3 separate regions of the Homo sapiens genome follow, and all the other regions are linked to region 1. Evidence: fine-mapped expression QTL. A gene starts in region 1. Each other region holds a variant in brackets. All regions are shown on one strand. Distances are from middle to middle. Region 1 holds the start of RAB7A (RAB7A, member RAS oncogene family). Region 2 overlaps ACAD9 (acyl-CoA dehydrogenase family member 9). Region 3 has its middle 28 kb from the start of MIR12124.

Region 1 (8,183 bases):
AGAAGTCTCGCTCTGTCGCCCAGGCTGGAGTGCAGCGGCATGATCTCTGCTCACTGCAAGCCCTGCCTCCTGGGTTCACGCCATTCTCCTGCCTCAGCCTCACGAGTAGCTGGGACTACAGGCGCCCGCCACCACGCCCGGCTAATTTTTTGTATTTTTAGTAGAGATGGGGTTTCACTGTGTTAGCCAGGATGGTCTCGATCTCCTGACCTCATGATCCACCTGCCTCGGCCTCCCAAAGTGCTGGGATTACAGGCGTGAGCCACCGTGCCCAGCTGAAGACATATTAAAAGCTAATCAAATAACCAAAATTTTTTGGCTTCACTTGGCAGTGGGGTCAGAAAACTGATTCAAAGCCACACTTTACTATAAAGAGTTGTTCTCTGATTACAGGGTTGGTGAGCTTAGACACAGTTGGCACTAAAAAAAAATTTTAAAAAAAATTGCCCCAAGTGGTTGCTAACTACCTAGAAGGATATACTAATAAAACTATTTTTAGACTATCTTCTACATTCCACCCTCTGTTTACTTATGCAGTTCTACCACAAATGTAAAATCCAAATCTTCCCTTAAAGAAGGGAATCTAGAAAGTTGTGGGAGATAGGGTAACACAGCTTTTCTATGTAGAATGGTACTGAAACTATGGCCAGTACACTATCAGTGCTACATTAAACTTTCTTGCCAGCTGAAGAAAAAAATCCAGCATGCCAAATGTACCTTTGCTCAAAGACATGGCAGTGCAAGGTAATTACAGTAGTGACATGGACTACCTCTTGAGTGAACAAAAAAATGCTACCAGAGTCGGCCGGGCGCAGTGGCTCATGCCTGTAATCCCAGCACTTTTCGGAGGCCGAGACAGGCGGATCACCTGAGGTAGGCAGTTCGAGACCAGCCTGACCAACATGGAGAAAACCTGTCTCTACTAAAAATACAAGATTAGCTGGGCATGGTGGCGCATGCCTGTAATTCCAGCCACTCGGGAGGCTGAGGCAGGAGAATGGCTTGAACCCGGGAGGCAGAGGTTGCAGTGAGCCGACATCGCGCTATTGCACTCTAGCCTGGGCAACAAGAGGGAAACTCCGTCTCAAAATATAAATAAAATAAAATAAATGCCACTAGAGCAAAAGGAGAAACAAGTTGAGTGTTGAAGGTTACTCTTTAAAAGATGTGATTAATTAGAAACTGTAATATTATCTTCTACACTCTCTGAAGAGCAAACCATACAAATGCTGTTGTTAAAATTAACAAAGCCTTAAAGTTAGCCAGAAGAACACCATCCTTTGGGTTACTACTGATTCACCAGCAGAGATGAGAAATAACTCTTTCCAAAAAGCCTCAAGTTCTACCGCCAAATTATTCCACAACAGAATTTCTGGCCAAGATCATTCACCTTTTAAAAATTCCTTGAGGACAGGAACCACGCCTATCTCCCTGAGTCAATGTCCCACAATGCCTGATACATTGCTGATACTCAATGGATACTCAAAATACTTAATGAATGAATAAAAAGGTGCCTATCATTACTCTAAACTCAAACATTATATAAAGCCACAGTACTTATTACTCACTTAAATATTTTAGGCTAGGTAGCAAAGTTAAAAAAAAAAAAGACAAATATGAATACAACAGGATTGTGAACGCTAAGCTTTAACTTAGCCGGTCCCTTCTTCAGAAGAAGTACTCCTAACTCACCTTCCAGTCCTTAAACTCAAATCTGAACAAACCTTCCCAAGTTTGAAGAGAGAAACACACTAAGAGGAGACTTTATTCATCCATGGATGAGAAATCATGTGCTTCATCAGCTGCTTAAGTCACAAGAAAGAGACAAGAGTCCGTTCTTTAGGAAACCAAAGATGCAGTATTTTGAATAGGGAAGAACCAGCCGGCTGGACAGCCATCAACTAAGGTTGTAAGAAAGGTTCACTAGGCAGGTTTGCCAGGCCTACCTGCAAAATTTTTCAAACCTCAGTTAAGTACCCTGCCGGTATTCAAGAGCTCCTAATTCGGTGACACTACACCACAATATGTGTGATAAGTCGCAAACGGCATTTCTTATGGCTTTAAGGGAGAACTGATGCTACCAGAAAGACTTTCAAATGACATCAATAGAAAGAAAGGAGGTGGTGGGAGGCACTGAGGTACAGATACCAGGTAGCAAAAGATAAACCAGCAAGCTTCAGGGGTACGTGAAAGCAGTACAACCTAGAAATTTAATACAGTGCTCTGGAGTCTGACTGCCTGGGCTTGCATCTCTGCTTCGTAACTTATTAGCTGTGTGACCTTGGCCAAATGGCTTAGCCTCTCTGTTCAACTTCCCACTGTGTTAAGTGGGCACAACAGTGGTACTTCAGAGGGTTGTTCAAAGAACTAAACATAATGATCTGTTAAAAGGTCTTGCCACGCTGCCTAGCATACAATAAACGCTCAAATATTTGCTGTCAATATTCTCAATATTCCCCTTATGACCCCATTAGGTATCAAGCCTAAAATGAATGCAGAAAGAGGCCCCAAACACGGTCGGAATGGAAACACAACTCTACATCCAACTACCATCTTTCCTCGATTAAGTTGAAAAACTTCTCTCAGGATTTACCGTAACATGCCTAGGACAAAAAGCTCCCTGTCTCCCAGCGCCAGAGGCGCCTCAATGTACACAAGTGTCGAGGCGAGCCCAGCGCACGTGACCTGACTCACTGCCTTGACTCAGTTGCCGTCAGGGAACTCCCACTAACAGGGTCAGGCTGTTCAACTGAAGAACCGGATGGGAACGCGGCTCGGCCCCCAGCGCCTGTGACCCATGCCCGCCGGGTGGGCACGGCGGCGGGCGGCGTGGGCTCTGACACCCTCCTGCTCGCCGCGCTAAGGAACTCCACTGGCCAGCGCGTCCTGCCGCGGCGCAGGGCCGCCCAAGTCAAGGAACCCTCTCGGGTCTCTGAGATCCAGGCCAACAGTAAACAGAGCGTCCGAGACGGGTGGCCGGGGCGGGCAACCCGGCCAGAGGTCACGCCCGACGACCTCCGACCTCTCCAAGCCGGGTGGGGTCTTGGCCTGCTCCGGGGGCCTGAGCGATGCCGGGTGTGCCCGCGTGGCCAGGGCTGGGACTGGAGCCTGCCCAGGAGGACAGGGAGGACGCGAGGCCCTGGCGACCGAGGGGCTGAGGGGGGGGATGGGGCCAGGCCGCCGGCCGGGCTGGGCCCGCTGCTTACCGCGGCCGCTGCGCTGGGGGCTCCGGGCCGGGCGCGTCGCGAGGGCTCCCGCCGAGGAGGAGACTAAACGGAGGACAGAAGCGAGAAGGTCCAAGTTCTGGTTCCAGGGAACTCTCCCGAGCTCTCCAAGCCGCCAACTCCGCCGCTGCCGCCGCCTCAGGCTTTATGGCCAAGACTCCAGGCCCGCTCCCACTTCCGCCACCGCCGCCGCCCCGAGCGGAAGTACCTGTCACGAGACGCTCGACGCCAGGGTGCGGGGGAGGAGCCCCGCCTCAACCTTGCGTCACGTTCCGGCTGCCTCGGGACTGAGCCTGGATCTCGTGCTACAAACATGTCTGCCCCCAAATGGTTGTCCCCATCTTTGAGGCTCATACAAGGAGCAGGACGGCGCCATGTTGGACCCACAGACAGATTCCCTCAGCCATCCCTCCTTACTCCAGAATAAATAATGCCACCGAAGAGGGGACAAGGGGTAAACTGGCCATTCCAGTTGTGTCCTTCTTCGAAAGGCATCATTTATCCTTACTTTAATTACTTAACCAAAAATTATTATCACCATTTTACAAATAAGGAACTGAGACTCAGTATATCATGTCACTTGGTCTAGCTCAACACAGAAACTGGTGGAGCGAGGTTTTGAACCAAGATCTGTCTGATGCCAATATGTGTTATCGTTCTAGTAGACTGCAAATGACTACAGCAATTGTGTGGCTCGGTGATAGAGACAGGAGAAATAGGCACTTTGTCTGGCAGAGGAGACAGCCCAAGAAAATGGAAAATGAGCTAAAGCCTCTCTGAACTTAGTATTAGAGAAGATGTGATAAAGATGGACCGGGTAGAACTCTTCTTGTAAGCACAGAGCAGCCTCCCAAGCACCAGCCCCATCCGAACACATCAGGATCCACTCAGAATTTTTGCCTCCATCTTCAACAATGCCCTCTCATAGTCTTTTCTTATTTTGGTTCATGCAAGCTCCATTCTTTCAATTGTTCCATCCAAAAACCTTGCAATTGTTACAGTAAGTAGTCAGACCTGAGCAGGGCAGGAGAGGGGCCACTCCCCGACCAGCAATGTGAGGCAACCATGACGTGGTTGTCAGGTTAAGCTGTCTCTCTAAAATAATAATTGGTTGCAGCCAGACCAGAGAAAGGCAGTCTCCCAATAGATAAAAACACCTAAAACTGGTGATCAGCAGCTTCCCGATAAGATCTCAGGAGTTGAGGGGTCTGGGGAAAAAAAAAATCTCAAAAGCTAGGCAAGCAGTCTCAACCCTGAGATGGTACAATGTCTGGGGTTTCCCCTACTTTTTCAACCAAAATTGGCTCTTTCCCCAAAACCCTCACCACCTATTCTCCTGTTTTCTCTATGTGTATTCTGAAATGGCCTTGCACACTGCAGAACCATCCGCCTCTGGGGTAAGTCCACTCTTTCTCTGCTTTCACTTTGCATGTGCCCAGGAGTTCAAGACCAGCTTGGGCAACATAACAAGACTGTCTCTTCCAAAAGATAAACAAAAAAGAAAAGAGAAGGCACACATCTACATCAGACCTCTGCAGTTGTACTTCTCTCTACCTGGAAAGCTCTTCCTCCAGGTATCTGCTTGGCCACTCCCTCACTTTCCTCTGGTCTTGACTTTAAAGTAACCTTTTCAGTGAAATAGCCTTCCCTATTTAAAACTGAAGTCCCTCTCCCTGTCACCACAATACAAACACAAAAATTGACATCTCCCTACTGCTTTTCTCCTCTGTTTTTTCTTTTTTATTTTCTTTTTCTTTTTTTTTTTTTTGAGAAAAGTTCTTGCTCTGTTGCCCATGCTGGAGTGCAGTGGCATAATCAGGGCTTACTGCAGCCTTGAACTTCTGGGCTCAAGTGATCCTCCTGTCTCAGCCTCCTGAGTAGCTGAGACCACAGGCGTGCACCACTATGGCTGGCTAATTTTTTTTTTTTTTTTGTAAAGAGAAGTTTTCACTATGTTACCCAGGCAGTCTTGAACTCCTGGTGTCAAGTAATGGTGTCAAGTAATCCTCCCGACTCAGCCTCCCAAAGTTTTTCCTCTTATACTACTCACTTATTTGCATATTGTCTGTCTTCCCCACTAGAATGGCAGCTCCACAAGGCAGCTATTTTTGTCTGTCTCATTCACTGCGATATCCCTGATTCTTGAAACAGTGTTGGGGTACAGTAGGTGCTCAATGTGTACAATTTGCAGAGTATTCAGGGGAATGAAAACTGAAAATAGTTTCAAAGGCCAAGAGTTATGATAATTCCACCCCGTTAGGCAGCCAATCAAAATGCTAGGTTTGAAGGTAAAGTAGCAACTGGGAATGCAGTAGTCCTCATCCCCAGGTTTGGCAGGGCTGACTGCAGGATTTGAGCATCTGAGTCCTAGAACCAATCCACCACAAATAGCAAGGGACAATTATACCAGAAAAGGCAGAGCACAAAAATAAAATGGGACATGTGGGCCCCAGCCTTCTAAGAAGCCTTCTGAGAAGGCTATTCAGATGCAAACATGGACTATTTCCTATGGGAAAGAAAGGACAACTTAGAAGAAACCCATGAGCCAAGAGGATAGAGCCAGGAGCTGCAGATAATCATTCCCAAGGAGCAGGAGGGGACTCGAATCAAGGAACTGGCATCACGTGCCTCGCTGATTTCAGAATTACTATGACCCAGTGGCAGCTGTCGCTCCTGTTTTTTCCCCTTTTGAACAAAAGTGTCTACTATGCTTATCTTCTTCTTGCCAACTCTGTATGCTGGGTCCGTGGACAGCAGATAACATCTCTAGCTCACAGGCCTTCAGAGGAACAGTGCTCAGAGCCGTTCTTAAGGAATTATATCTGAGGAACCTCATCCACATCTGGACCCAATTTACATGGCAAGATCCATTATGAGCCAGTGATGTATTGGGATTGAGACTTTTAGGGTTCTTGGGGGAGTTAAGTAGAGCAGGGCCTCCAGTAACATCATTTCAATTATAACATTGATGAGAAAAAATTGATTCCTGGCTGGGGCCCCTGTCTGTGTAGTTTACACTCTTTCCCCATGTCTGAGTTTTCCTTGGTTCCTCTGGTTTCCTCCCACATCCCAAAGATGTGCCCTTTAGGTGAATTGGCTTGTCTGAATTGTCCCAGTCTCTGTGTGTGTGTGTGTGTGTGTGTGTGCACGTGCGCACACGTGTACACAATGGGCTGGCATCCTGTGCAGGGTTGGTTCCTGTCCTGAGCTGCCAGGATAGACTGGCCACCTGTGACCCTGAGATGGAATAATTGGATAAATAATTATCTTGCTCATTTTCATTAATCTGTCTTAAATATATATATAGTTCACATTTACTTTAATATTTAATATTAGAAGTGTTTTGGTCTTTACCAGCCTGACCAACATGGTGAAACCCCGTCTCTACTAAAAATACAAAAATTAGCCGGGCGCTGTGGCACGTGCCTGAAATCCCAGCCCAAATCCAAGGGACATCTTGGCTTTAGCACAACCTACTCTCTTGGGAACTAATCAATTCCTGTGAGAACTCATCCAGCCTCACCAGAGCCAGAACTCACTCACTCACTCACTACCTAGAATGGCACCAAACTATTCATGAGGGAACCCCCCCACAACTCAAATACCCCCAACTAGGCCCCACCTCCCAAATCTCCACACTGAGGAATCACATTTCTTTTTTTTTTTTTTTTTTTTGAGACAGAGTTTTGCTCTGTCGCCTAGGCTGGAGTGCAGAGGTGCTATCAGCTCATTGCAGCCTCCACCCACTGGGTTCAAGCAATTCTCGTGCCTCAGCCACCCGAGCAGCTGGAAGTACAGGCGTGCACCACCATGCCCAAATAATTTTTGTATTTTTAGTAGAGATGGAGTTTCACCAAGTTGGCCAGGCCCATATTGAACTTCTGGCCTCAAGTGATCTGCCCCCCTCAGCCTCCCAAAGTGCTGGGATTACAGGCGTGAGAGCCACCACTCTCAGCCTGCCTGGATCACATTTCTTTTTTTTTTTTTGGAGGGGGCAGAGTCTCGCTTTGTTGCCCAGGCTGGAGTGCAGTGGAGCAATCTTGGCTCACTGCAACCTCCATCTATGAGGTTCAAGTGATTATTGTGCCTCAGCCTCCCGAGTGACTGGGATTACAGGCACCTGCCACCATGCCCAGCTAATTTTTGAATTTTTAGTAGAGACGGGGTTCGCCGTGTTGGACAGGCTGGGCTCAAACTCCTGAGTTCAAGTAATCTGCTCTCCTCAGCCTCCTAAAGTGCTGGGATTACAGGTGTGAGCCATTGCACCTGGCCTGGGATCACATTTCAATATAAGATTTTGGGGGCACGAACACATCATATCCAAAGCACAGCAGGTATGTTGGAGGAGATTAGGAGTGAGAAGTTCAGTTCTGGAAATGCTGAGACAGAGGACTTCCGTGAAACATCCAAGTGGAGATGGGGAGGAGGCAGTTAGACATTTTGGGCTGAGGCAGAGATGGGAGTTGGGTTTCTGGGTCCTTCAGGGTAGCCTCAGCTGAAAATAGAAATTTAAGAGTAGATGGAAATGAAAGTAACGGGTGTTAACAGGATTGCCCATGGAGAAAGTGGACAAGTACATCCTTCTTTCAACAAACGATTTACTGAGAATCTCCTATATGCTAGGCTTTTTGTTAGGTTCTAAGGACACAAGGAAAACAAGGCCATTGATATCAAGAGCCTTACTACTTAGTGTGGTACACAATGTACAAACGTACACACACACACACGTCCCTGCACAATTTTCATTCAAATTTCTATCAATAGGGAACTGGTAAAAAAGGTATGGTACATCTTGACAATGAAATACTGTGCAACTATAAAAAAGCAATAAGATAATTCTCTATATATTGGTATGGAAGGATCTCCAAGAGATATTGTTACATGATAAAACCAGATGCAGAAGAGTATCGGGGAACCTGCCCCCGATAGTCACATAGGTTTTTTTCTATTTTCCCTAAG
Region 2 (8,183 bases), 160 kb before region 1:
GCAATGGTAGCAAAAGGGAATCTGACTCTACATGAGAGAATGAAGAGCCCTGGAATCAGTAACTACATGGGTAACTACAAGATCCTTTTTTCCTATTTTAAAAATTGCTGGCCGGGCACGGTGGCTCAAGCCTATAATCCCAGCACTTTAGGCCGAGGCGGGTGGATCACAAGGTCAGGAGTTCGAGACCAGCCTGGCCAATATAGTGAAACCCTGTCTCTACTAAAAAAATATAAAAATTAGCCGGGCATAGTGATGCGCACCTATAGTCCCAGCTACTCAGGAGGCTGAGGCAGGAGAATCGCTTGAACCTGGGAGGCAGAGGTTGTAGTGGGCCAAGATAGCGCCACTGCACTTCAGCCTGGGTGACACAGTGAGACTTCGTCTCAAAAAAAAAAAAAAAATTGCTCTAAAAGATAAACCAACCATTTAAGAATTGTAGGCCTTTTTGCAGACATTGAAAATTGTAAAATTGATAAAGAAATGCAAATTAACTTGTAATGAATCATAGTTCTAAACCTGAATTAAAACTATACAGTTTCTTTTGAGATGGAGTCTTGTTCTGTCGCCCAGGCTGGAGTGCAGTGGTGCGATCTTGGCTCACTGCAAGCTCCGCCTCCCGGGTTCACGCCATTCTCCTGCCTCAGCCTCCCGAGTAGCTGGGACTACAGGCACCTGCCACCACGCCCGGCTAATTTTTTGTATTTTTAGTAGAGACGGGGTTTCACCATGTTAGCCAGGATGGTGTCGATCTCCTGACCTCATGATCCGCCCATCTCGGCCGCCCAAAGTGCTGGGATTACAGGCATGAGCCACTGCGCCCAGCCAAAACTATAAAGTTTCTAAAATAAAATACAGGCCAGGCTGGGCGAGGTGGCTCTCACCTGTAATCCGAGCACTATGGGAGGCCGAGTCGGGCAGATCACCTGAGGTCAGGAGTTCGAGATTGGCCTGGCCAACATGGTGAAGCCCCTTCTCTACTCAAAATACCAAAAATTAGCCAGATGTGGTGGCACGCACCTATAATCTCAGCTACTCGGGAGGCTGAGGCAGAATCGCTTGAACCTGGGAGATGGAGGTTGCAGTGAGTCGAGATGGCATCTCAAAAAAAAAGGAAATACAGGCCAGGCGCAGTGGTTCATACCTGTAATCCCAACACTTTAAGAGGCTGAGGTAGGAAGATCACCTGAGCCCAGGAGTCTGAGACCAGCCTGAATAACATAGTGAGAACCCATTTCTACAAAAAACTTTAAGAATTATTAGCTGGGCATGGTAGCGTGTGCCTGTAGTCTTAGCTATGCGGGAGGCTGAGGCAGAGGATGGCTTGAGCCCAGAAGTTCAAGGGTTGCAGTGAGCTATGATCACACCACTGCACTCCAGCCCAGGCAACAAAGAAAGACCCTGTCTCTTAAAAAAAGAAAAAGAGGAAAAAAGGAATGTTTATGGCAACTTTTTTGGTGATAGCTAAAATCTGGATACATACCCTATGTTGATGAATACTTGAATGGATAAACAAATCTTGGTATATCCATAGAAAGAAATATGACTCAGCATTAAAAAGGAAGCCACTACCAATACATGCACCATGGATGAAATTCAAAATTATGCAGAAAGAAGCCAGACAAAATCACACATAATATAATTCCAAAAAATACGAACTAATCTATAGTGAGAGAAAACAGATCAGCAGTTGCCTGGAAACAGGGGGGAAATAAAAGAGGCACAAGGAAACTTTGACGGGTAATGAGTACGTTCACTTCCTCTGTTGCACTGATGGCTCCTGAGGGGTACTCTCTAAATACAGTCATGCGTCAGGTGATTCTCTCCCTGTATGAACATCAGAATGGACTTACACAACCTAGGTGGCAGAGCCTACTACACACCTAGGCTATATGGTATGGCTTATTGCTCCTAGGCTGCAAACCTGTACAGTAGGCCGGGCGTGGTGTCTCATGCCTATAATCCCAGCACTTTGGAAGGCTGAGGCGGGAGGATCACTTGAGCCCAGGAGTTGGAAACCAGCCTGGGCAACACAGTGAAACCCCATCTCACTGTTAAATATTTTTTGTTTTTTTTTTTTTAAGGAAAACAAAACAAAACAAAAAAGCTGTACAGCATATTACTGTGCTGAACACTGTAGGCAACTGTAACACAATGGTAAGTATTTGTGTATATGAACACAGCTAAACATAGAAAAGATACAGTAGAAATATGGTATGATGATCTTATGGGATCACCACTGTATATATGGTCTGTCATTGACTTGAATGTCATTATGTGTCACATGACAGTGTGTGCAATTTATTGTAAATCAATTATTCCTTAATTAAACCTGAAAAAAAAAAAAACCTGACAAACCACATAGGAAAAGTTTAAATAAAAGAACAAGAGACTATGGGAGCTAAAAAAAGATACAAATAGGAAGATAAACACTAGGAAAAAAAGCAGAAATAAGTATTTCTAAATTATAAATTATGTTTATATATAAATAAGCAACTTTTAAAACTAGCAACATATAATTTGTGATCACCAGGTGTGAAATAAGAAACAAACAAAAACCAAGCAATGTAATGACAGCTGACAATTTGGCACTTCTCAAAGAGGTTCTGGGGGACCTGAGCTGCTTCTAGGGGGTCCCACAGGATCAAAACTAGTTTTTATTTTTTTTTGAGATGGAGTCTCACTCTGTCACCCAGGCTGAAGTGCAGTGGCGCCATCCCAGCTCAATACAACCTCCACCTCCCGGGTTCCAGTGATTCTCCTGCCTCGGCCTCCCCAGTAGCTGGGATTACAGGTGGGCACCAACACACCTGGTTAATTTTTATATTTTTAGTAGAGACAGGGTTTCACTATGTTGGCCAGGCTGGTCTCAAACTCCTGACCTCAAGTGATCCACCCACGTCGGCCTCCCAAAGCGCTGGGATTGCAGGCATGAGCCACCATACCTGGCCTAAAACTACTTAAGATGTTACTTGCTTTTAAATTCTAATTCTCTGAAGACTGTACAGTGGGGCGCAGTGTAGTGTATTTAACGTTTTGGCTCAGAGTCCAATATATAGTCCAAAGTACCATGTTCCCAGAATTTATGTACGGCCTTTATATGAATAAATCTTGATCAAGGATTCAGAAAAAAGTCTTAGGTTTGCATATAAGTCACTCAAAGCAGTAAAACAGGCTACTTGGATTTCCAGCAATATTTGTGCTTTTATTCTTGGCCATTACTTTTGGGGAAGGGTTGTCTGTCCTGGTTGGTTTTCATAGAGGCCAGTTGTGGGAGGATGTGATTTTTCTGTGTCTCCAGATGACAGTGCCTCTATTTCCGTGGCACTGCTGGCTGCCTACAGCTGTCATTCCAGAGGGCCCTTTGTCCACAGTGATTAGCCTCCTCTTTGAATGTACATGAAATAGGTGTATTTTTGTATGTTCTTTTCTCTGCTTTGCCCTTGGATTTAACTTCCTTTTTGAATTCACATCATGGCAGCTGAATGAACATAGTTTTTATTCCAGCATTTGCTATTTATTCCAAGAGACCTTTGTTCCTGTGAGAGGGAGTGGGTTTGGTTTGCAGTGGTTTCTTGCATATATATATATATATATATATATTTATTTATTTTTTTATTTTTATTTTTATTTTTTTTTGAGACAGGGTCTCACTCCTGTCGCCCAGGCTGGAGCTCAATGGCATGAACACAGCTGACTACAGCCTTGACTTCCCAGGCTTGGGTACCTTCTCCCACCTCAGACTCCCAAGTAGCTGGGACTATGGGCGCGCACCACCATGCCCGGCTAATATTTTAAATTTTTAGTAGAGACAGGGTTTCGCTCCATTGCCTAGGCTGGTCTCAAACTCTGGGACTCAAGCAATCTGCCCCCCTCAGTCTTCCACAGTGCTAAGATTACCAGTGTGAGCCACCGTGCCCAGCCGGTTTCTTATATATTTACATCTCTGCAAATACAAAGATGACAGTTATTGCTGACAGAGCCCTATGTCCTGGAAGTGTGTGTTTCTTGCTTTAAATGCACGTGTCAGGACAGGTGCGGTGGCTGACACCTGTAATCCCAGCACTTTGGATTACAGGCAGATCATTTGAGGTCAGGAGTTCAAGACCAGCCTGGCCAACATGGTGAAACCCCATCTCTACTGAAAATACAAAAATTAGCCAGGCGTGGCGGTGCGTGCTATAATTCCAGCTACTCAGGAAGCTGAGGCATGAGAATCACTTCAACTGCAGAGGTTGCAGTGAGCTGAGGTCGTACCACTGCACTCCAGCCTGGGTGACAAAGCAAGAGCAAGACTGTCTCAGAAACAAACAAACAAAAAGCATGTCTGAAGATTATAAAAAAAGACAGTTAAAAAAAAAAAAAGACTGCACAGTGGACTTTTCCAGAGGTTACGTGCACAAACAGGTATGAGAATCCAGCTGTCTTCTAATAAGCCAAACATTAAAAGGACTTGCATAACTTTCAACCAATGTCACTCTTTCCATCAATTTTTTTCTTTTTTTTTTTTTAACTTACTTTTCTTTTTTTTTTCTTTTTGAGACAGAGTTTCACTCTTATTGCCCATGCTGGAGTGCAGTGGCGCGATCTCGGCTCACCGCAACCTCCGCCTCCCAGGTTCCAGCGATTCTCCTGCCTCAGCCTCCTGAGTAGCTGGGATTACAGGCATGTACCACCACGCCCAGCTAATTTTGTATTTTTAGTAGAGATGAGGTTTCTCCATGTTGGTCAGGCTGGTATCGAACTCCCGACCTCAGGTGATCCACCCACCTCAGTCTCCGTAAGTGCTGGGATTACAGGTGTGAGCCACCGCGCCTGGCCTGATTATTTTTCAAAATATTTTTCATTAGCTGGCGCGGTGGCTCACGCCTGTAATCCCAGCACTTGGGGAGGCTGAGGAAGGCAGATCATGAGGTCAGGAGTTCAAGACCAACCTGGCCAACA[T/C]AGTGAAACCCCATCTCTACTAAAAATACAAAAATTACCCGGGCGTGGTGGTGCATGCCTGCAGTCCCAGATACTTGGGAGGCTGAGGCAGGAGAATCACTTGAACCTGGGAGGTAGAGGTTGCAGTGAGTCGAGATTGCACCACTGCACTCCAGCCTGGGTGACAGAGTGAGACTCTGTCTCGGAAAAACAAAAACAAAATATTTTTCATTAAAAATATTATGTTAACATGTAATGGATTTATTATTTTTAAACAAATGAACACAGTATATTTTATTTTTTTTTTTTAGACAAAGTCACACTCTGTCACCCAGGCTGGAGTGCAGTGGTGCAATGTTGGCTCACTACAATCTCTGCCTCCTGGGTTCAAGCAATTCGCCTGCTTCAGCCTCCTGAATAGCCGGGATTACAGGCACCCGCCACCATGCCCGGCCAATTTTTGTATTTTTAGTAGAGACAGGGTTTCACCATGTTGGCTACGCTGGTCTTGAACTCCAGACCTCAGGTGATCTGTCCCCGTTGGCCTCCCAAAGTGCTGGGATTACAGGCGTGAGCCACTGCACCCAGCCCCACAGTATATTTTAAATTTCTCAGTTTTAATTTCTAAGAGGGGCTAGGCATGGTGGCTCACACCTGTAATCCCAGCCCTTTGGGAGGCCAAGGTGGGAGGATCACTTGAGCCTAGGAGTAGAGACCAGCCTGGGCAATATAGTGAGAACCTGTCTCTATGAAAAATACAAAAAAATTAGCTGGGCATGGGGGTGCGCACCTGTAGTTCCAGCAACTCAGGAGGCTGAAGTTGGGGGACTGTTTGAGCCTGAAAGATGGAGGTGGTGGTGAGATGAGATGGTACCACCACACTCCAGTCTGAGCAACAGAGCTAGGCCCTTTCTCAAAAAAATAAAGTAAAATAAAAATAAAATAACCCCTAAGATGGCAAATATTGATAGATAAAATTCATATAAACAAAAGCTCTCCAGGATCCTACTATTAGGGAAGACCTGCTGTCCATCCACCATCACTGAACTCTCCACCAAGGCCCTGGCTGGAGGACCGGCCAACAGCTCTGAGAGAGGGACCTGAGGTCAAATGCTGCCTCACCATGCAGGTGCCAAACTGTGGCTGGTCCACAAATCACTCTTTGTTTACAATTACCAAAGTACAGAAATTGAAACTCAACCTTTAGAAACACTAAGAGCAACTGTACACTGCCACAACAACCAACACATGCTCCATGGGCTTGTATGGTGTGTGGCCTTGGCTTTTTGCCATCTAATTTTTTTAGTTATTCATTTTTATTATAGCTTTATGGAAGTGTTGACCTGGAACAGTATGGAAATGTTTAAAGTGCTCCTGAACCACAAATACAATGAGAAGCATTTAACTGGATGTTTTTTAATTAAATGGCAATAGGGATGAAACCTAAAGCAAAATATTATGAGTGGAAACCATTTCTCCCTCAAGAAGACTTCTCCTATGTATGTCACTTCTAATATAAATATCAACCAAATAGCCCTTACAATGGAAATCGGCAATGGTAAAGAAAACCATACATACCCTCTTCAGTGAAGAATTTTTCCACGGGTCCCAAGAACTGATTGATTTCATTAAGTTCATCTTGGCTAACTTCTGGAAATGGGAAAACTTCTTTCTAAAAATAGTAAATATTTTCTAAAAAATTTAATTTTTAGCACACTCCCATCACGGAAATATCAGTTAAAAGGGAAGGAAAAACATGTGCTCCACTCCACCCTGGCCAGCGGGACATGACGTACTGAAGGAACTGGAAAGCAAACCTCACAAGGTTCCTGAGATACAGAAACTATGTGCAGGCTCCACCACCCACATCCATCTCCCTCCCCTGTTCAAATAGGTTCTTCCCGATTTTCATCAGTTTTCCTTCTCAGTACAAGGGATGATAATAGTCCCATGAAACAAGGAGCCCAAGACTAACATTTAGAAGCCTGGGGGTCTGGTCCTTGATTTCAGGCTTACTCATTATGTGGCCTTCACCAAATCCCTTCAGCTCTCTAAACTACCCCTTTCTCACCCATAACATGCAGGTAATATTTACTCAAGGCCCTTGTGAGAATCGTGGAAGATAGTGGATGTGGAAACTCCTTACTGAAATGGACAATTCTACATCAATTATTGTGTGAGCTCAAAGATGCTATGCTGACAAGAGCACATCATGCTTACCAAGTCTCATCGATCCCTACAGCCGCTGTCTCTCCTGCTCACAGACATCTGCTCCCTGTGCTGAGCCCCTCTGGACTTTTGGGCTCTGCTACCCCTTCAATTGCCAGCATGACATGAGCTTTGGATGTGGGCTTCAGGCTGTTGAGCAGTGATGTCCTGAGTCAGAGCTATAAGCCCAAGCATCACCTGTCCTCATGGCGCCTCTCACCAAGTGTTCTAGAGAAGTCTTGGGGAGACCTCAACCTTCTCCTCAGACCTTGTACAGCTAATCAGCCAACAGATTTCTCTACTCTATCAATATGCTCGCACTGCTTTCTCCTCTCTGGGCCCAGGACCACAGGCTTATAGGTGAGTCCCTAACTAAAAGTGACAGCCAACTTAAAGGAATCCCTGCCTCCATCCATTCCAAAACCACCCTGAAGGTGGTATAGAAAAAAAAAAAGGTTGGAGGCCAGGCACGGTGGCTCACGCCTGTAATCCCAGCACTTTGGGAGGCCGAGGCGGGCGGATCACGAGGTCAGGAGTTTGAGACCAGCCTGACCAACATGGTGAAACCCCGTTTCTACTAAAAATACAAAAATTACACGGGCTTGGTAGCACGCGCCTGTAATCCCAGCTACTCAGGAGGCTGAGGCAGGAGAATTGCTTGAACCCGGGAGGTGGAGGTTGCAGTGAGCCGAGATTGCGCCATTGCACTCCAGCCTAGGTGACAGAGTGAGACTCCATAAAAAAAAAAGAAAAGAAAAAGAAAAAAACAAGCTTAGCTGGTTGCAGTGGCTACTGCCTGTAATCCTAGTCCTTTGGGAAGCTGACGCAGGGGGATTGCTTAAAGCCCAGGAGTTCAAAACCAGCCTGGGCGTGGTTGCACACGCCTGTAGTTCCAGCTACTCAGGAGGCTGAGGTGGGAGGATCCCCTGAGCCTGGGGAGGTTGAGGCTGCAGTGAGCTGTGATTGCACCACTGCACTCCAGGGTGGGCAACAGAGTAAGACACTGTCTCAAGGAAAAAAAAAACAAGAAAAAAAAAAAAAAACAAGCTGAT
Region 3 (8,183 bases), 94 kb before region 1:
GGGCCACCAGCTTGGGGCTCAGAGACACATGGGAAGGGGGCAGATGCAGAGGCAGCTGGCGTTTTTGTGAGGCGAAGCCTCATTTTCAAGTTCATGGGCTTTAGGCACTCATTGATCTTTGACTTTTTTTCACTCAGCAGTTTCCTTTTTTTCAATTAAAAAAGTATAAAACTTGCATAAAATTTACCATCTTGTGTCAATTCCAGCATCATTAAATACATTCACAATGTTGTGCAAACATCACCACTGTTTACTTCCAAAACTTCCATCATCCCCAACAGACATTGTGTACCCTTTAAAGAGTAATTCTCCATTCCCCTCCCCGCACTCTGTTCTACTTTTTGTCTCTTATGAATTTTCCTATTCTAGGTACTTCCTAAAAGTGGAATGATAACAATATTTGTCCTTCTGTTTCAGGCTTATTTCACTTAGAATAATGTTTTTTCTTTTGAGATAGGATCTCGCTCTGTTGCCCAGGCTGGAGTGCAGCAGCACAACCACAGCTCACTGCAGCCTCTCTAGGCTCAAGCAATCCTCCTGCCTCAGCCTCCAAGTAGCTGGGACTACAGGCGCATGCCACCACACCTGGCTAATTTTATTTTTTGTAGAGATAGGGTCACACTAAGTTGCCTAGGCCAGTCTTGAACTCCCGGGCTCAAATTATCCTCCCACCTTGGCCTCACAAAATGCTGGGATTACAGGTGTGAGCCGCTGCACTCGGCCTTGGAATAATGTTTTGAAGTCTCATCTATACTGCAGCATGACTCAGAATCTTACTCTCTTTTTTTTTGAGACAGAGTCTAGCTCTGTTGCTGAGGCTGGAGTGCAGTGGCATGATCTCGGCTCACTGCAACCTCTCCCTCTCCGGTTCAAGCGATTCTCCTGCCTCAGCCTCCGGAGTAGCTGGGATTACAGGTGCGTGCCACCACGCCCAGCTAATTTTTGTATTTTTAGTAGAGACGGGGTTTCACCATGTTGGCCAGGATGGTCTCGATCTCTTAACCTCGTGATCCACCCACCTCAGCCTCCCAAAGTGCTGGGCTTACAGGCATGAGCCACCACGCCTGGCCTTACTCCTTATGAATAATATTCCATTCTACATACATATCACATTGTGTTTATCCATTCCTCTGTTGATGAACACTTGTTTCCACTTTTTGGCTAATGTAAATAATGTTACCACGAACATGGGTGTGCAAGTATCTCTGAATCCCAGCTTTCATTTCTCTTGGGTACACATCTCAAGAGGGGAGTTGCTGATCCCAGGGTAATTCCATGTTTATCTTTTTGAGGAATCACCAGGCTATTGTCCAAAGTGGCTGCACTGTTTTACATTCCCACCAGTAAAACACGAGGGTTCTGATTTCTCCACATCTTCACTAACACTTGCTGTTTTGTGTGTTAAGTAGCTCAGTGTGGTTTTGATTCGCATTTTCTGGTGGACTGACAGTGATCATTGTATTTTCTTTGGAGAAATATATATTTAAGTCCTTCACTCATTTTTGAATCACTTTTTAAAATTGAGTTATAGGACTTCTTTCTATATTCTGGATATTAATCCCTTATGAGATATATGGTGAGTTTTTACTCTCTTTGTAGTGTCCTTTGATGCACAAAAAATTTTAATTTTCATGATGTCCAATCTGTTTTCTTTTGTCGCCTGTGTTTTTAGAGTCGTATCAAATAAATCACTGCCAAATCCAATGTCATGAAGCTTTCCCCCTATTCAAAGAGTTTTACAGTTTTAGCTCTGACACTTAGGTCTTTGATCCAGTTCAAGTTAGTTTGTGTATATGGTGCAAGGTTAAGACTCCAACTTCATTCTTTGCAGATGGGTATGGGTATCCATATCCCAGCACAATTTGATGAAAAAACTGTCTTTTCCCCATTGAATGGTCTTGGCACCCTTGTCAAAAATCAACTGATCATAGATGTGAGGGTAGTTTCCTTTTACCCAGGAGTGCAGCTAGAGAATCAAGTGACTTAACAAAATCTTGATGATCTCTCCAAGACAACCTAAGTTAACGTCTAGAGTTGGAGGATCCTGTTCTATGGCAAGGAATGAAATTTGGCAAGAAGTTTCCCTGTCCTTCCACAACAGTACCCCAGCAGGCATTCCTATGAGTGCAGAGATGACTAGGGACCCAGGGTACTTTTACAAACTGCAAGCCAAGCTTGCTTCTGAAAGCAGAAGCAACAGATACCAATGGAAACCCAACTACTGAATTCACCACCTCTGTTCGATGGGCCATCCAGAGTGGCCTTTTCCTTCTCTAAGCTAGGGATTTTCTATATAGCCTTTACCCTTTCTCTTTCCTGGCATAAAGTAGGGAGTAATAATACACCCACGGACTATGATTAGACCCCAAAAAGCTAACAAAATTCCAGTTCTGGCTCCCTTCCATGAAACTACAACAAAAATGAGCAAAAAGGGGTATCTTTAGCCCTGCAGTGTGAATGGAGGAAGGACTTCTGGCAAAGGAAAGGGGTACTGTGAGGAAGGGCATTGTGAAGGCACATGGTTCCTTTCCTCAAAGGAAAGAGGTTGGGACAGGATGTGCCATGCTGGCAGTTTTGGGTTCCCCTCCAGACTTCCAGTATCTTCTACCTGGCCAGGAAACTCAGGACATGGAAACTTGGTAGTCACCGTGGACCGGGCCGAGCTCACTTGGCAGAGCAGCAGCACTCAGCACACCACACCCCAAAGCCTGGTCTCTTGGAGCACACGCATTCCACTCAGAAGCTGCCGGGCCACCCTCAGACATAAATTAGTTTCTTAGCATGGGAGCCAGGCAAGCAAGTTTAAATAAGGTGGGTCCTCAATTAGTGGTCACTATGAGAAATTCGGGAGTGTGATCCAAGTGTTGCACTTTCTTCCAATTTTTAAAAGACAAACTAGAGTTGGATTTTGTGTGCTATCTTCCCATTTACAAATATTGGTTGGAAGTATGTAGGAAAAGTGGGTCAAACAAAATCTGTGCAGTGTTGCAACTCAGTGGCGGTGGTGGTGGGGAAGGCTAGAGCATACATTTGAGATCTTTTTTTTTTTTTTTTTTTTTTTTGAGATGGAAGTCTCACTCTGTTGCCCAGGCTGGAGTGGCACTATGTCTGCTCACTGCAAGCTCCGCCTCCAGGTTCACACCATTCTCCTGCCTCAGCCTCCCGAGTAGCTGGGACTACTGGCGCCCGCCACCATGCCTGGCTAATTTTTTGTATTTTTAGTAGACACGGGGTTTCACCGTGTTAGCCAGGATGGTCTCGATCTCCTGACCTCGTGATCTCCCGCCTAGGCCTCCCAAAGTGCTGGGATTACAGGCGTAAGCCACCACGCCCGGCCGAGATCTTTAATTTTTTTTAAGGCCAAACTTTTTCCTGTCTCTTAGCAACCAGCTGTGGACCTTACACATTTGTGGTTCATAAAATATTTAGGGAAATATTTTTATACCAGTTCAACGCCAGCTACACATTAGAATCACCTGGAGGGGTTTTAAAAGCATACCTGAGCCACACTCCGGCACTGTCAAGTTCAGTAAATCAGGTGGGACACAGGCCCTCAGGTGATTCCAACATACAGCTACTCTTAGGAAAAATGAACCTCCCAGCAAGTGCTCAGCTTTCTAGATCTGTTGTTTTCTCCTCTTTACAAAGGGTGGGTTGTACCTCACAAAACTGTTAAAGATTAAAACGAGTCAGGGGAGGGGAAATTTGGAATGAAGCCAGATTTAAGGGAAGAAAAATTAGACAGTGACGGCTATGAGAGCTAAGATGTACATAAGGGAGGTGATAGGGGAGGTGATGTGCTGAGCTGTGTCCCCCTCCAATTCCTA[T/C]GTTGAGGCCTAAACCCCAGTACCTCAGAGCAAGTGACTGCAGTTGGAGACGGGACCATTAAAGAGGTAACTAAAGTAAAATAAGGTCATATAGTTGGGCCCTAATCGAATCTGACTGGTGTCCATAGAAAGGAGATTCAAACCCAGAACGGCAAAGAAGGGAAGACCATGTGGAGACACCAGGAGAGAGGCATCCACAAGCTGAGGAGAGGGGTTGAGAGGAAACAACCCCGTGGACACCTGGATCTCGGACTTCTATCATCCAAAACCAGGAGAAAAGACATTTCTGCTGTTGAAGCCCTGCAGCCTCGTATTTGTTATGAGAGTCCTAGCAAATGAATACAGGACACGTCCATGAGAAGAGCCAATGGAAAAGAAGGAAGTGGGCGCTGAGATGTGCTGGTGGTTTGGGACACAAGCCAAGGCTCTAAAATGGTCAGCCATGTTCAGTACCAGGGTCAATTCAGATCAATGATCATCAAAAAATCAAAGCACATAAGAGTGAAGATAAGAATCGGAGTCAGTGCCAAGGCCAATTTTTTGGGTAAGATCATTTCAATGTTGGGGTGGGTCAAAGTATGGATGTCTGTGTTCAAAGGATAGTTAAGATCAGGATCCAAGTAAAGTTCAAGGTCATTGTCCGTACAATGGCAGGATGAAGGTAAGGCAATTTCAGAGTCAGGTAGGGCAAGTTCAGGATGATTATGTCAAACTGAGGATCCATGGTAGGGTCAAGGTCAAGTGCAAAGTCAAGTAAAAAAAAAAACACAAACTAAGACATGGCTAGAATGATGTTCAAGGTGATAATCAGAGTCGGCCTCAAAGTCATGTCAAGGTCCAAATGGCTCAAGCTCAAGGTAAAGTTGAAACGTAGGGTCAGAATGCTGGTCAGCACCAGGACAAGGGTTGGGTCCAACGTCATACCAAGGCTAAGGATTAGAGCCAAGAGGATGAAGGTCATTTTAAGGCCAGAGCAGTTCAAAGGCAGACTATCATCAGTGGCAGGATGAATAAGGTTAAGGATAACTTAAGAATGGTTAAGGTCAGCTAGATTCAGGTATAAACTTAGGGGAGGTATAAACTTATGGCCAGGACAATGTTCAGGGTTGGCTTCAGATTCAGATTCAGGGCCATGAAAAGCACCAGTGTACTGGATTCAAAATCAATCAAAGTCAGTTTCAAGGACAAGTTTAAAATGAGGGCAAAACATGGTCAGGGTGATGGTTAGGGTGAGGACAAGGGTCAGAATTAGGGCTAGATTCAAATTCAAGGTCAAGTTCATGCTTATTTCAGCTTAAGGTCAGGATGACTGCATATGAGATTCAAGATCAGGATCAATACGCCTGTAATCCCAGCACTTTGGAAGGCCAAAGTGAGCGAATCATTTGAGGTCGCGAGTTTGAGACCAGCCCAGCTCACATGGTGAAACCGCCTACTAAAAAATACAAAATTTAGCTAGGTGTGGTGGTGCACACCTGTAATCCCAGCTACCCAGAAGGCTGAGGCAGGAGAATCGCTTGAACCTGGGAGGCGGAGGTTGCGGTGAGCCAAGATCACGCCACTGCACTCCAGCCTGAGCCTCCGTCTCAAAAAAAAGAAAAAAGTCAAGGTCAGGACACATGGGTCAGTTTCAAAGTTAATCCAAGGTTACCTCAAGGGGATCACGGTCAGGATGATTGTTAAGTGTAAATCGATTAGAATGAGTCTCATGTGGTAATGAAAAGAATCCATATTAGTACAAGTACATCCAGTCTCAATCATTTGATTCATGCAACTCCTAATTGCATGCGAGTGACAACTGAGAGGAAGGTAAGCAGGACACACACATTCCTCTCTAGGGCACATTCTTACTGCAAGGTAGAGTGAACCAAGATGCACCTACTTCATGCTATTGGAAGGCATCATTTTCAGTGCAAAAAAGCTTAGTCTCAGACATTTATCTTAAGGTGAAATCTTATTGCAGGTCAGTGTTAACTGATATCAATGTAAGCAATGCAATACACATTAACCTCAAAGGCATATTCTTACTAAAAGATGAGAGGAATCAGAATGAACCTGAGTAGGAGTTTGGATGAGAATTCCTGTTAGTACAACAAACTCAGGCATTCTTATTAAAACCAACTCCTCATAGCTTATTGAGGGAGATGACAGTCGGCACAGCAACACACTCACATGCAGGCAGAATAAGCTGGGATCAGAGGAAGGAGTACTACTGAAACAAGTACATACTAGTACAACAAACTCATTCCCAGACGTCCTTTCCAAAACTTTTTGTGTGTGTGTGTGTGTGTGTGTGTGTGTGTGAGATGGAGTCTCACTCTGTTGCCCAGGCTGGAGTGCAGTGGCGCAATCTTGGCTCATTGCAACCTCTGTCTTCCAGGTTCAAGCGATTCTCCTGCCTCAGCCTCCCAAGTAGCTGAGGCTACAGGTGCCCACAACCACGCCCGCCTACATTTTGTATTTTTATTAGAGATGGGGTTTTGCCATGTTGCCCAGGCTGGTCTCAAACTCCTGGCCTCAGGTGATCCACCCACCTTGACCTCCCAAAGTGCTGGGATTACAGGTGTGAGCCAGTGTGCCTCGCCAAAAATAACTTCTGAATATTTGTTAGCGCAAACTGAGATGGATGCAAACCCAGCAACACACTCATCTCTCATTCTCACCTCAAGGCAAATATGAATGAACCCAAACAATCCATAGTACTGCAGACAAACTCAGTCCCAGATATTCTTCACAAAAGTAAATCCTTACTGCTTATTCCAGCAAAATGACAAGTTCCCCTCTTTTGAGAGAAAACACATGCTTATGCTGAATCTAAATAGGAATATAGAAAAAGGCACTGTGATGACTCTTAATGAGCATTAAGAGTCATCACCACTCCCTAATCTCAAGTACCCAGGGACACAAATGCTGCGGAAGGCCGCAGGGTCCTCTGCCTAGGAAAACCAGAGACCTTTGTTCACTTGTTTATCTGCTGACCTTCCCTCCACTATTGTCCTATGACCCTGCCAAATCCCCCTCTGAGAAACACCCAAGAATGATCAAAAATAAATAAATAAATAAATAAAATAAAATAAAAAAATAAAAAAAAGAAAAAGGCACTGTGTTGATGCAGAGCTCAGTCTCAGCCATGGCTCCCTATTGTGGTTAAGCTGAATCCCTTAGATGAACATTATACAATTTAGGGTTAAAATATGACACCAAGCTCAGCCATCAGGCTGATGGGACATGAGACTAATTAGTCCCAGGTCAGAGAGTAAGACCTATTGTCATGGTAGGGTTCCATGTTAACTTCAAAGTCAGGTGATGATTAGGGTCAGGAGGTGGGTCAGAGTCAAGGTCATTCAGCAGTGAACGTGTTTAGGGTAAAGTCAAAGCCAGTTCAAAGCCAAAGCCATTAAAATTAGGGTAAGTTATGATAAGGACAATGGTTGAAATCAGTCAATTAAAGATTACATTCATCTCAAGCTAAAGCAGGTTAATATCAGGATGATCATCAGTTTTAGGATGAAGGTCAAGCAGGTCAGAAGTCAAGGTCCATTTTAATGTCACATACAAGGTCAAGACCAGTGGAACACAATCAGAGGAATAGATGCCTGATTTGCAGAGGTGAGCATCACACAAGGGTCCACACCCTGTGGCCCAGTCACTGGGCCCCAAGCTGGAGAGAACTCTGCTCCTCTAGAGGACAAACACCTGATGAGGCCCAAGCAAAATATAGGACCAGAGAAGATTTAAGCCACCCAGCCAGGGTGGAATTGCACTGTGGATAATCTCACATTGTGCAGCATCTGAACTTCTAAACTATGCTATTTTTAACACATAAAGTACATGCCAAGAGGAGCCACGAGGAAAGAAACCAGCTGAGGAGCCTGAGAAGTGGAAATGTAGAAAAGTGTAGCAAAGTAGAATTCAAGATCTAACTCAATGAGGCACTTCTGCAAAACCTAAAGTGACTCACGACCTGAACTACTACTATTTTAATAAAATTGCTTCTAAGTGGCAACTATTCCATTCCAGGTGGGGGCTTACATATGTTGGAATACAGGGCCTCTGCTGCCAAATCTTCCTCTCCTGTGACAAATGCAGAATTACACATCTAAGTGTTAGCAACTAGGTCAACTAAAAATAAAACACATAACACATGACTAGGTTACAGTTACACCTACAGGATATGCATGGCTCAGAGTCCCCAGCAGTTTCTGGCTGCTCTCCTAAAGGGACAATGCGTTCTCCATCCATGGTCCTCAACCTCCAACAATGTGATTAAAATACACCCACCCCCGCCCCCGGAAAAAAAAACAAACAAAAAAAAACTAGGGACAGGCACTACAGGACCAGATATGAGAGGGCCTT

The links. PIP is the estimated chance that this variant, and not a neighbour inherited with it, causes the effect. A credible set is the group of variants that fine-mapping cannot tell apart.
Region 2: its variant is the best candidate, but not a certain one, in a credible set for the expression of RAB7A in spleen (GTEx, PIP 0.69).
Region 3: its variant is the best candidate, but not a certain one, in a credible set for the expression of RAB7A in whole blood (TOPMed, PIP 0.52).

Annotation. Positions count from the first base shown.
Region 1 is chr3:128,721,383-128,729,565 of GRCh38, reverse strand. RAB7A (RAB7A, member RAS oncogene family) reads right to left here and starts at 3,383. Exons shown (of 6, transcript NM_004637.6): 1 at 3,207-3,383. RefSeq lists a silencer at 2,960-3,249 and enhancers at 2,516-3,500, 3,530-3,659.
Region 2 is chr3:128,883,065-128,891,247 of GRCh38, reverse strand. ACAD9 (acyl-CoA dehydrogenase family member 9) reads right to left here. Exons shown (of 18, transcript NM_014049.5): 2 at 6,502-6,595. Among named protein-coding and RNA genes, the nearest start is that of ACAD9, 7.5 kb to the right of the region's middle. The variant T/C (reference allele first, on the strand shown) is at 4,945.
Region 3 is chr3:128,814,937-128,823,119 of GRCh38, reverse strand. No RefSeq gene overlaps it. Among named protein-coding and RNA genes, the nearest start is that of MIR12124, 28 kb to the left of the region's middle. The variant T/C (reference allele first, on the strand shown) is at 3,828.